Linked DNA regions of Homo sapiens. Changing the gene in region 1 together with any one later gene gives a genetic interaction. Each region holds a gene or a part of one and is shown in the gene's direction. Other genes may lie near its edges. The genes, in order: ATG2A, ATG7 and ATG10.

Region 1 (3,650 bases):
GTGTCTGTGGCCCCGGGGCACCTCTGAGCCTGAGTACACGGAGGTGAGGGCAGAGGCAGAATGTGTACGAGGCGGGGTCTGGAGGTTTGGGTGGCTGTGGGGCCAGGCCTGACCCTGTGTGCCTCCCGGGTCCCATCCCAGATCCTGACCTTTCCTGGTACGCTGGGCTCCCAGGCCTCAGCTCGGCCCTGCGCCCATCTGCGCCACACACAGATCCTGCGCCGTGTGCCTAAGGTAACCCACCCGCTCCAGGCCACCAGGCTGTCCCCATGGCGTGTTGACCCCACCCTGGCCTCTGCCAGGGCCTCCTCTGCTGCCCAGCCCTGTCCCTCTTCCCCTGTGCTCCACATCTCTCCATGCTGGGGCCCTCAAATACCTGCCTGGCCCTTCCTATGCCAGTCTCTGAGCCTGGTCATGCCCTTGCCCTATCTCAATATGGCCCCCTGGCTGGCCTCTGTTGCTAAGAGTGGCGCATGTCGGGTGGCTTTTATAAGTAAACAAGCACATTGTGCGCGTCGGGCAAAGGTGGGGCAGGCCTTCTTAGTGCTCTCGTGGCCCCTGCCCCAGCTCTTCTCCCACTACCAGAGAGGGCCTTCCTGTCCCACCCGCTGAGTACCACTCAGCCCTCACTGACCTGAACGCCCTCGCCCTCAGAGCCGACCCCGGCGCTCAGTTGCCTGCCATTGCCACTCAGAACTGGCCCTGGACCTGGCCAACTTCCAGGCGGACGTGGAGCTGGGGGCCCTGGACCGGCTGGCCGCCCTACTGCGCCTGGCCACCGTACCTGCTGAGCCTCCAGCCGGCCTGCTGGTGAGAGGCCCCTGCCAGGGCCAGGCCGGGGGTGGGTGCAGGGCCTGGGTCCTTCGGCTCTTGGTCACAGTGGGAGGGGCTCCGACGGCTGCTCTGACCCCCAATCCTCCTGCAGACAGAGCCCCTGCCGGCGATGGAGCAGCAGACGGTATTTCGGCTCTCTGCACCCCGGGCCACGCTGCGGCTGCGCTTCCCCATTGCCGACCTGCGGCCTGAGCCGGACCCCTGGGCGGGCCAGGCCGTGCGGGCTGAGCAGCTTCGGCTGGAGCTGAGTGAGCCCCAGTTCCGGTCAGAGCTTAGCAGTGGGCCTGGTCCCCCAGTCCCCACCCACCTGGAACTCACCTGCTCCGACCTACATGGTGAGAGCCCCCGAGTGACAGAACTTGGGGCAAGAGGCCTGGCTTCTGGGAGAGATGGGCTTGGGGCTATGGAAGGGGCCCAGTCACAACCCGAGCAGTCCCTGGCCCAGGCCTTTACCAGCTCTTGGGGTCCCAGCACTGCCTGTCCCCGGCCTCCTCACCGACAAGTAGGGTGGACCCTTTGTCTCTGGCTTTCTCTGCCCACCAAGGTGTGTGTGGAGTCGGGGGCACAGCTCTGAGCCGACCTGGGCATTGGGGAAGAAATAGGAAAAGGCAGCAGTGATGACCCCCCTAATTCCCCATCCCCCTCCAGGTATCTATGAAGATGGAGGGAAGCCACCTGTCCCTTGCCTGCGTGTCTCCAAAGCCCTGGACCCCAAGAGCACTGGGCGCAAGTACTTCCTGCCCCAGTAAGTAGGGGCTCTGGACTGGGCCCAGGAGAGGAGGGTTCTGCTGGGGGTGGCAGGGGGCCAGTTTGGAACTGGGTGCCGGGGGCCCTGCAGGCCAGTAACAGGCCTGTGCCCCGGCAGGGTAGTGGTGACTGTGAACCCCCAGTCCAGCAGCACACAGTGGGAGGTGGCCCCGGAGAAGGGAGAGGAACTGGAGCTGTCAGTGGAGAGTCCCTGTGAGCTGCGGGAACCTGAGCCCTCGCCCTTCTCCTCTAAGAGGACCATGTATGAGACAGAGGAGGTGAGACTTGGCCCCACCTCTTCCCAGGACCCCCTCCCGCCCACCGCCCGGGTTCCTGCCGTAGGAGCCACCTGTGTGGCTGTGGGCCAGGGCAGCACGACCACCTGGGGTGGGCATGAGCTGACCCAACACCAGTGAGGATTTCGGCTCTTCCATTCTTTCCAGCCAGTCAGAGAGTCTTTCTGAAACGGCACTGGTGAGGGCAGGCCCCTGGGGAGCATGGGTCCTCGATTGGAAAGATCAGGTCCTGCCCCACCTGACCCGTGGATCAGCACTGTACACTTAGAAAGGCAGTTAAGGGCCAGGCTCTGCCACTTGGTGACTGTGTCATCACCCTGGGGAGTTATCTGACCTTGAAGAGTTACCTATAGATGAGTTTCTTCCCCTGGAAAATGGGCACCATGACCTGTCTTTCTCTCTTTTTTTTTCTTTTTTTTTTGAGATAGAGTTTTGCTGTGTCGCCGAGGCTGGAGTGCAGTGGCATGATCTCGGCTCACCGCAACCTCCGCCTCCCAGGCTCAAGCGATTCTCCTGCCTCAGCCTCCTGAGTAGCCGGGATTACAGGCGCGTGCCACCACGCCCGGCTAATTTTTATATTTTTAGTAGAGACGGGGTTTCATCATGTTGGCCAGACTGGCCTCTAACTCCTGACCTCAAATGATCACCCACCTCAGCCTCCCAAAGTGCTGGGATTATAGGCATGAGCCACCGCACCTGGCCTAATTTTGTATTTTTAGTAGAGACAGGGTTTCACCGTGTTGGCCAGGCTGGTCTCGAACTCCTGACCTCAAGTGATCTGCCCTCCTCACTCTCCCAAAGTGCTAGGATTACAGGCGTGAGCCACCGCGCCCAGCCTAACCATAACCTGTGTCACAGGCCTGTTGTGAGGATGAAAGAAGTTAACATACCTGAAGCCCTTAGAACAGCACAGGTGTGCCATCAGCACTGTATCTGTACGGCTATCATGCATCCCCAGTAGAGAAGGGCTCCTATGAATGAATGAATGATGAACGACAGGAGGGCAGGACTGAGACCAGAGACAGGCCCCAGCCAGCGTCTCTAAGATGACTCTCCTGCTCTTTCCACCTCACCCTGTCCAGATGGTGATCCCTGGAGACCCTGAGGAGATGAGGACGTTCCAGAGCCGGACCCTGGCACTGTCCCGCTGCAGCCTGGAAGTGATCCTGCCCAGTGTCCACATCTTTCTGCCCAGCAAGGAGGTCTACGAGAGCATCTACAACAGGTGGAGACCCGGGGCCAGCAGGGCGGGACTGGACACTGGGTGGGCCTGGCCTCCCTTACCTGCTGTCCACCCGCCTATCTCAGGATCAACAACGACCTGCTCATGTGGGAGCCTGCAGATCTGCTTCCCACCCCCGACCCCGCCGCCCAGCCCTCGGGCTTCCCCGGCCCCTCAGGCTTCTGGCACGACAGCTTTAAGATGTGCAAGTCAGCCTTCAAGCTGGGTATGAGAGGTGCTAACGCTGGGCTAGAGGGAGGACCCCCAGGTCTGGGAAGGGCCAGGCTAGCCCTTCGCGGTCTCCTTCCCAGCCAACTGCTTTGATCTCACCCCAGACTCGGACTCGGATGACGAGGATGCCCACTTCTTCTCAGTGGGGGCATCAGGTGGCCCACAGGCCGCTGCCCCTGAGGCCCCAAGTCTTCACTTGCAGAGCACCTTCTCTACACTGGTGACAGTGCTGAAGGGGCGGATCACAGCCCTCTGTGAGACCAAGGTGAGTGCAGCCCCGGGCAGGCGGGCCCCAAACTTCAGAGCTCCCATTGGCGGCA
Region 2 (3,650 bases), on another chromosome or scaffold:
GAGAAGCTGACATGGTTCCTTTCTCATAGAATTTTTATTCTACTGAGGAGGATAACTGCATACGTGCTATGAAGGTAAGGTAGTTGGTGCTCTTTGAGGACTAGAATACAGGAGGATCGACCTAATCCAGAGCTGAGGGAGTCAGGGAAGGCTTCCCTCAGAAGTGATGATTGAGCTGTGATTTGAAGTGAGCAAAGAAATTCACTAGATGATGGGTATGTGGAGGTGGCCAAGAAAATTCTAAGCTTATGCAGAGGCCATGGGGTGTTTCTGCAGCTGATGATGTGGAGCTGAGTCAGCTTCCTCCCTTTGCCTGGAGAGTCCCCACTCCCTACCTCTAGCCTCCTCATCCAGGGGTCCTTGCATGGGGCTAGTGCTGTCATCTAACCCTCCCTTTCTCAACCATCAGGGGTGGGTTTAGAAGTTTGTGGAGCTGTTTTATTTTGCTTTGTTTTGTGACATTGACCAGAGGGCATTACTGCATTTATTGAGAGAGAGCCAGAGATGCTCAACATTCTGCAGTGTGCAGGGATAGCTCTAAACAAAAAAGAATTGTTCCATCCAGCATGCCAGTAGGGCCCCTGTTGAGAATCTACTTGGATGTTCTTAAAACCTTGGGTTAAGGGTTTCTATAGGATATTCTTAAAACCTTGGCTTGGCTGGGTGTGGTGGCTCACGCCTGTAATCCCAGCACTTTGGGAGGCCGAGGCGGGTGGATCACAAGGTCAGGAGTTCGAGACCAACCTGACCAACATAGTGAAACCTTGTCTCTACTAAAAATACAAAAATTAGCCAGGCATGGTGGCGGGTGCCTGTAATCCCAGCTACTCAGGAGGCTAAGGCAGGAGAATCGCTTGAACCCGGGAGGCAGAGGTTGCAGTGAAGCCGAAATTGAGCCACCTCCCTCCAGCCTGGGTGACAGAGCAAGACTCTGTCTCAAGACTCCGTCTCAAAAAACAAAAAATAAAAAGCAAACAAACAAAAAAACCCCACCTTGGCTTAAGGGTTTCTATAGGAAACACTGTTGCCTCATCAGTCTAATTTAGATATCCCTCCTCCTATAACATTCTGTACAAACGCCAGGCTATACTGTATTTGTTTTACCTCCAAATTGCTATACTCCGATTCCTCTTCTGTTTTGTTGTCTGTTTTGGCTTCAAAATTGTTAGCTCTTTAAAGGTGGGGACCATAGTTTTTTTTTTTTTTGCCATTGAACCCTGAAATGTAGCACAGGGACAAGTATGTAACATAACTGTTTATTGAAGAAATAACTAATGGAAGCCCCAATTTCATTTCTTTTCTTTTCTTTTTTTTTTTTGAGACAGAGTCTTGCTGTGTCACCCAGGCTGGAGTGCAGTAGTGCTATCTCAGCTGACTGCAACCTGCGCCTCCCGGGTTCAAGCAATTCTCAAGCTTCAGCCTTCCGAGTAGCTGGGATTACAGGCGCCTGCCACCATGCCCGGCCCTTTTTTTGTATTTTTAGTAGAGACGGGATTTCGCCATGTTGGCCGGGCATGTTATTGGTAAACAATATGATATTAGTCCTGCTTTTTGAGTGTCTCCTATGGGCCAGATGTATGCATTTTCTAGTTGAATCTTCACACTAATTCTGCACAGTAGGTGGTATCCCCATCTAACAGAAGAGGAAACAGACTCGGAGAAGTTGAATGACTTGTCCAAGGTGGTGTGGCTAGAAAGTAGCAGAGACAGGATTTGAACTCAGGTCTCTCTGGCTCATGAACCTATGCCCTTTCCAGTCTAGCAGACCATCTGCCTTGTCCAGTTGTTTTCTTGAACTTAGATTTAGGGCCCTAGATTTACCTCTATGAAATTTCAAATCTTGTTAAAATAGGCCTGCCATTCCAGATGGTTGGAATCTTTTTTTATCCTGAATTTTAGTCACTTGTATTGCCTGTTTCTTCTTTTGTCATGAAATTGATAAGCAAATCTATATCATTATCCAAGTTATTGGTAAAATATGGTAATAAGAATACTTTATTGAATATGTTTATTTGCCTATTCCCCCTGCTCTTAGCCCCAGCACAGGGTTCAGTGCACATGAAATACTTAGTAAATGTTGATAAATATTCATTCATGTGGATAAATAAAATAAATTGGACAGGCCCAGAGACTAAGCCAAAGACGTACTGCTATTAGCTCCTTTCTAATTAACATTAATTAATTCAGTAACCAAGATCCTTTGAATAAGATTATTTTACCAGTTCTTAATCCCTCTAATTATGTCAGGATCCAATTCCTGTATCTTCACCTTGTCTACCGGGATTTCTAGAGCAGCCTTGTGAGAGACATTTCTGAGACCTGTATGTCCTGCGTCTATGATTCTTCCCTGATCAAGGTAGGAATGCAGTTACTCTGTCATGACTTTTTCTTAGAGAAACCATATTGGCCTCTTGTGATTACTTAGGGCTGCCTCATACAGTTATGCAGGCTGTGCACTGCACAAGAGGCCACATCAAAGGGGGTTCCATTTATATCATAGGTATCATGGGTGCATTTTTGTAATGACAGTGGCAGAGAAGGCTACCATGTCTTGAGCTAATCTAATCAGTATATTACAACATTTCTCTAACTAAAGGAAGTAAAATCTTGAAGCAGAGGTGTAATTTTCTGATTGTACAAAGGTGCTAAGTGGACTAGAGTGGCCCATATGGGCCTTTCCTGGGAGCAAAACTTCTGTCCAGTGGTCTTTAGAACCCATCTTTATTCTTATCTTTGAAAAATCAGGCCGGGTGTGGTGGCTCACGCCTATAATCCCAGTACTTTGGGAGGCTGAGGCAGGTGGATCACCTGAGGTCAGGAGTTCGAAACCAGCCTGGCCAATATAGTGAAACCCTATCTCTACTAAAAATACAAAAAATTACCTGGGCGTAGTGGCGGGCGCCCATAATCCCAGCTACTTGGGAGGCTGAGGCAGGAGAATTGCTTGAACGTGGGAGGCAGAGGTTGCAGTGAGCCGAGATCGTGCCATTGCACTCTAACCTGGGCAACAAGAGCGAAACTCCATCTCAAAAAAAAAAAAAAAAAGAGAAAAGAAACAAAGAAAAATCAAACATTTTGAAAATCGGAAATCAGGCCTTTGCTTGGCCCAGTTTTAAAGTACTTCTCCCGTTTCTCAGGATTCTTTAAACATACCAGAAATGAAAACCACAGAGATGTAATTATTTAGAAGCAAGCCTTCATAACTCAGCCAGCTTTTAGGAAACCATCATAGATTTTAGTTGTTGGTTGGCATAGGGCTCCACAGTGATTTAGACAAATCCAGGTGGGTGTCTCTCAGATGAACAGAGAAATGGGCAACACTGTTGATCAGTGGAGGTAACAAAAGGACTCAGAAGGAGGCACACTGCCCTCCATCTTCCTGGCATTATTGCTTCCTCTCTCCTCTTTCCCACATTTTCTCAGCTGTCACTGTCCCTCCCATGTAGGCTTCTCAAACCCCATAATGCTGGTATCCAGTGCATCCGTTCTCAAAAACTGAAGCTGATGGACACCAGATTGCATGTGAAGGTGAAGGATATTATAGCAGAAGGAAACCAAAATAAAAGAAAAACAGCTCCTGGAAGTAACCAATGAGAAGGACAGATAAGAGTTTGAAGACTGTGGATGTGACTGCTTGTTCCCTGGTTGAC
Region 3 (3,650 bases), on another chromosome or scaffold:
AGACTGCCTTCCTCAGGGTTATCCAGCTATGTCTGTAAAGCTTGCAGGTTGGCCAATGATTGGACAGAAATTATGCTCAAATACCTCAAGCCTATAATGCTTTTTTCTTTTGCCAATGGATGTGTACGTGGATTGGGAACACGCTAAAAACTCAAGTAGTATTCATATTGGCCTTAGCTCTTACTTCCTATCAGGCCTTCTTGTGACTCCACTGAACATCCCCTTCCCATCAGCTAGTGATGCCTGGAGAACTTATCTACCCCTTCTGTGGCTGTCTTATTTCCAGAATGTCCCCATTAAATTACTGGTAGTTTGCTGCTTGCCTCAACTGGGACTGCAACCTCTGGCTAGCAGAGCTGCAGCTTTTTTCTTTTCATTTAGTACCTATTTTGCTATTTTTATTGACAGTGCTGCTGAGCAATAGTTTTAGCTATCTGTTGGAAATCAGGCCAGCCCCTCTGGCTACACAGTTATTGGCTCTTATGGCCAGATTGCTCTGGTAAAACTTCTGTTGATGGAGTGTCTGGGGACATTGGGGAAGAGGAGGAGGGGATATGGAAGTACTTCCAGGCAAGAAGGCTTCAGATTCCCTCTGTTTCTAACTTGAAGTTTAGCAGATTATCATGAACTAAACACGTCTCAGATTTTATATTTGCCCTTGGTTGATTTCCAGGACCCAAAAATGGTTAGTTTTTGACAATTTTGTTCATTTTTATATTTAATTTCTGGGGAGAGGATTTGCTGACCTCTTTATTCTATCACAGCTGGAAGTCCACTTCTGTTGTTATTAATTTATAAAATTCTTCTAAAAGATTACATATCTTATAATTCCTATTTTAAGCTGATCAGCATATTATAGGCTTGATTCTTTTGAACCAAAAGCATTTTGCCAAAACAATATAATTTTTATTTTAAAATCCAATTTATTAATAAATTTAAACTTTTAATTTTTAAAGACCATCATTCATTTTAATATATTCTATTTAATTATATAAATATAAGGTCTCAGTATAGTAAAGGATAAAGAATTTTTTAAAGATGGCCAAACCTGCATTAAAGAAATGCTTAAGCTATTCTAAAAGCTCTTCAAAGGCATGAAAGTCTCAATTATTTTAAAAAGTGTTTTAAATGACATTGCCATGCATTTTATTCTATTAGAACATAACCTTAAATGCTAATATGACTGTTTTATGTTCTTTGAGGAAAAATGAATATTAAAATGTTGTAGATTACTGAAGTGTTTTTGAAGTACCTAAACTTTTATTTTAATTTAAATTCATTTAAATTATTTTTCATTAATTTGGTTTTAAACCTGAATACAAATATAGTGATAGTTCTAGTTGCCATATAGACCTAGACCTTTTACTAATTCAGACCTTTCTTCCTTTCACTTATAAACAGTTGTCAAATATTCCTAAACACTTAGATACTGGTCAGTGATGCTTTTAATATGCTACTTAATTTACAGGAACGTCCTATTTTTAGATTGAAATTTGGCTTTATTATAGGGTACCATAAGACTACTTTCTGAATGTCTGGCTGTTATTCTTTTCTGTTTAGATATTAATGGGTTAAATACTAATAGCCAACTAAGTGTCTGCTATGTGTCAGGTACTGTTCTATGTACTTCTGTGGTATTATCTCATTGAAGGGTCACAGTCAATCTCTGAGACAGATACTATCATTAGCCACAGTTACCAGATGAGGAAACAGAGACGTAAAATGGTTAAGTGACTTTCCCAATAGCTCACAGCTACCAAGTGGTAGAGCAGGACTTGATCTCAAACAGTCTTAACCATAGAGCTCATGCATGTGCTTACCCACTTGCTATGTGGAATGAAAAAAAGATGACTTATAGAAGTAAAGTCCATGTCTTTACAAAGCAGCATCAAATGAGCAGAGCTGCAGTGTGCCATGGTCCTAAGACTCCTCTAAGAAAATGGTCCCCTGAACTGTAAGTGCCTATCCACCTCTTAGATAAGAAAGAGATGCCAAAGGGAAAGTGAGTCTTGGAGAGAGTGGAGGCTGCGTGATTGAACTGATCCTCCCTATTAGGAGTGTTTCCGTCTAGTGGAAATTTGTAACTGTAGGTTTCATTTCATTAAAGTCAACATGTACTTTACATCAATAAGATTGGATTATACCTCTTTATTCCTTCCATTGGCAACTATGTAAGTCATCCCAAAAGAATTTAGACTACATTTATCTTTTTTAAATCCCAGCTTTCTAAACAGTCATTGTTTTAGTCCAGGATAATTCTAAATTTTTTTGCATTTTTCCTGCATATTTTCTATGCTCATTTCCCCCATAGGGTCATCTGCCCCCACATTCTGTTCCCAAATCTCTGCATGGTTGTTTTTTTCCTTGTCGTTCTGATCTTTGATTAAGTTTCACCTTATTTTAGTCCATTTAGGCTGTCATAACAAAAATACCATAGACTGGGTGGCTCAAGAACCAACACTTATTTCTCCCAGTTCTGAAGGCTACAGGATCCAGGATGAGGGCACTGGAAGATCCAGTGTCTGGTGAGGACCCGTTTCCTATTTCATAGATGCCATCTTCTCACTGTATCCCCACATGATAGGAAAAGAGTGAGAGTTACACCTCTTAGGGTGTAACCCTAAGAGGGATACACACATTCAGTCCATTGTATTACCTCTTCCTTCAGGCCTTCCCTTTCCAAGTCTAATGTCACCACAATCCCTCCAGAATCATGTTACCCTGTTGTGTTTCCTTTGTAGGGCTTATAATTATCTGGATTATCTTATTTATTCGTTCTGTGTGTTTATTGGCTGTCTCCTGCACTGAAATCTAAGTTCCATGGGATCAGGAACATTGTTTATCTAAGAGATGCAGTGGTCTCTATAACTATAGCTAGAAGTATTCTGGCAGACACATAAAAAAGATGATTGATTAATATATGTTGAATTGCTAAATATTAGTTTAAGGCAGGTAAGGGAAACCAGATTCAAGTTGGACAGGAGGACTTGGCATAGGCCCAACACATCAGGGCTTTGAGCCCAGGGCCCAGTTAGGGATGGGAATGAAGGTTGGGAAGAGAGCTGTAGAGAGGAAGCTGATGCCTTGCTGGAAGAATCAGGCGACTGGTCAGAGTCACCTGGAGATGGCACTCAGGGAGAAACAAATGCCAGGTGGTGCTAAAAATGCCAGATACATGCAATAACCTATCACTAGTGGATAACTCATCCCTCACCACCACCACCCCAAATCTCCATACCCAGTGTCACCAATACAAGAGGAATTGTCCCTTCCAGTTCTTGTGAGTGGATATGTGCATAAGCATACAGACATGAATGTTTGGAGCTGAGGGGTAGAGGCAGCAAGGACAGCCACATAATTCATCCCATCAACAGCTCTGAGTTCAGCTTCCCCTTGGGTTGGCTGAGAGAAGAAGCCAAGAGAAGAAACTAGGCATCCCCTAGTCTAAATCCAGCCTACAAGCCTGTTTTACTTGTCCCACTCCATGTTTAAAAATAAATTATGCCAACACTTAAATGTAGGAGGTTTAACATAAACTTCAGCTTTTCTAGGTTAGTTTCACAAATAGGGAGGTCTGGCATGCTGAACCTGCATTCCCACATGGGACAGTTGGCTGGAGCAGAGTAGCCAGCATGGCCTTGGATGGGTGC

Evidence for each region.
Region 2: of ATG2A (region 1) and ATG7, changing one enhances a phenotype caused by changing the other (phenotypic enhancement), as found in Homo sapiens cells (one large-scale study listed by BioGRID).
Region 3: of ATG2A (region 1) and ATG10, changing one enhances a phenotype caused by changing the other (phenotypic enhancement), as found in Homo sapiens cells (one large-scale study listed by BioGRID).

Annotation. Positions count from the first base shown.
Region 1 is NC_000011.10:64,907,200-64,910,849, reverse strand, and holds part of ATG2A (autophagy-related protein 2 homolog A), read left to right. Parts: coding exon 1-43; intron 44-141; coding exon 142-234; intron 235-654; coding exon 655-810; intron 811-925; coding exon 926-1,169; intron 1,170-1,482; coding exon 1,483-1,579; intron 1,580-1,699; coding exon 1,700-1,859; intron 1,860-2,959; coding exon 2,960-3,102; intron 3,103-3,185; coding exon 3,186-3,325; intron 3,326-3,410; coding exon 3,411-3,595; intron 3,596-3,650. UniProt on the Homo sapiens protein: Lipid transfer protein involved in autophagosome assembly. Tethers the edge of the isolation membrane (IM) to the endoplasmic reticulum (ER) and mediates direct lipid transfer from ER to IM for IM expansion.
Region 2 is NC_000003.12:11,278,747-11,282,396, forward strand, and holds part of ATG7 (ubiquitin-like modifier-activating enzyme ATG7), read left to right. Parts: exon of another isoform or gene 1-74; intron 75-2,247; 5' UTR 2,248-2,356; intron 2,357-3,423; exon of another isoform or gene 3,424-3,446; 5' UTR 3,447-3,650. UniProt on the Homo sapiens protein: E1-like activating enzyme involved in the 2 ubiquitin-like systems required for cytoplasm to vacuole transport (Cvt) and autophagy.
Region 3 is NC_000005.10:82,247,921-82,251,570, forward strand, and holds part of ATG10 (ubiquitin-like-conjugating enzyme ATG10), read left to right. Parts: intron 1-3,650. UniProt on the Homo sapiens protein: E2-like enzyme involved in autophagy. Acts as an E2-like enzyme that catalyzes the conjugation of ATG12 to ATG5. ATG12 conjugation to ATG5 is required for autophagy. Likely serves as an ATG5-recognition molecule. Not involved in ATG12 conjugation to ATG3.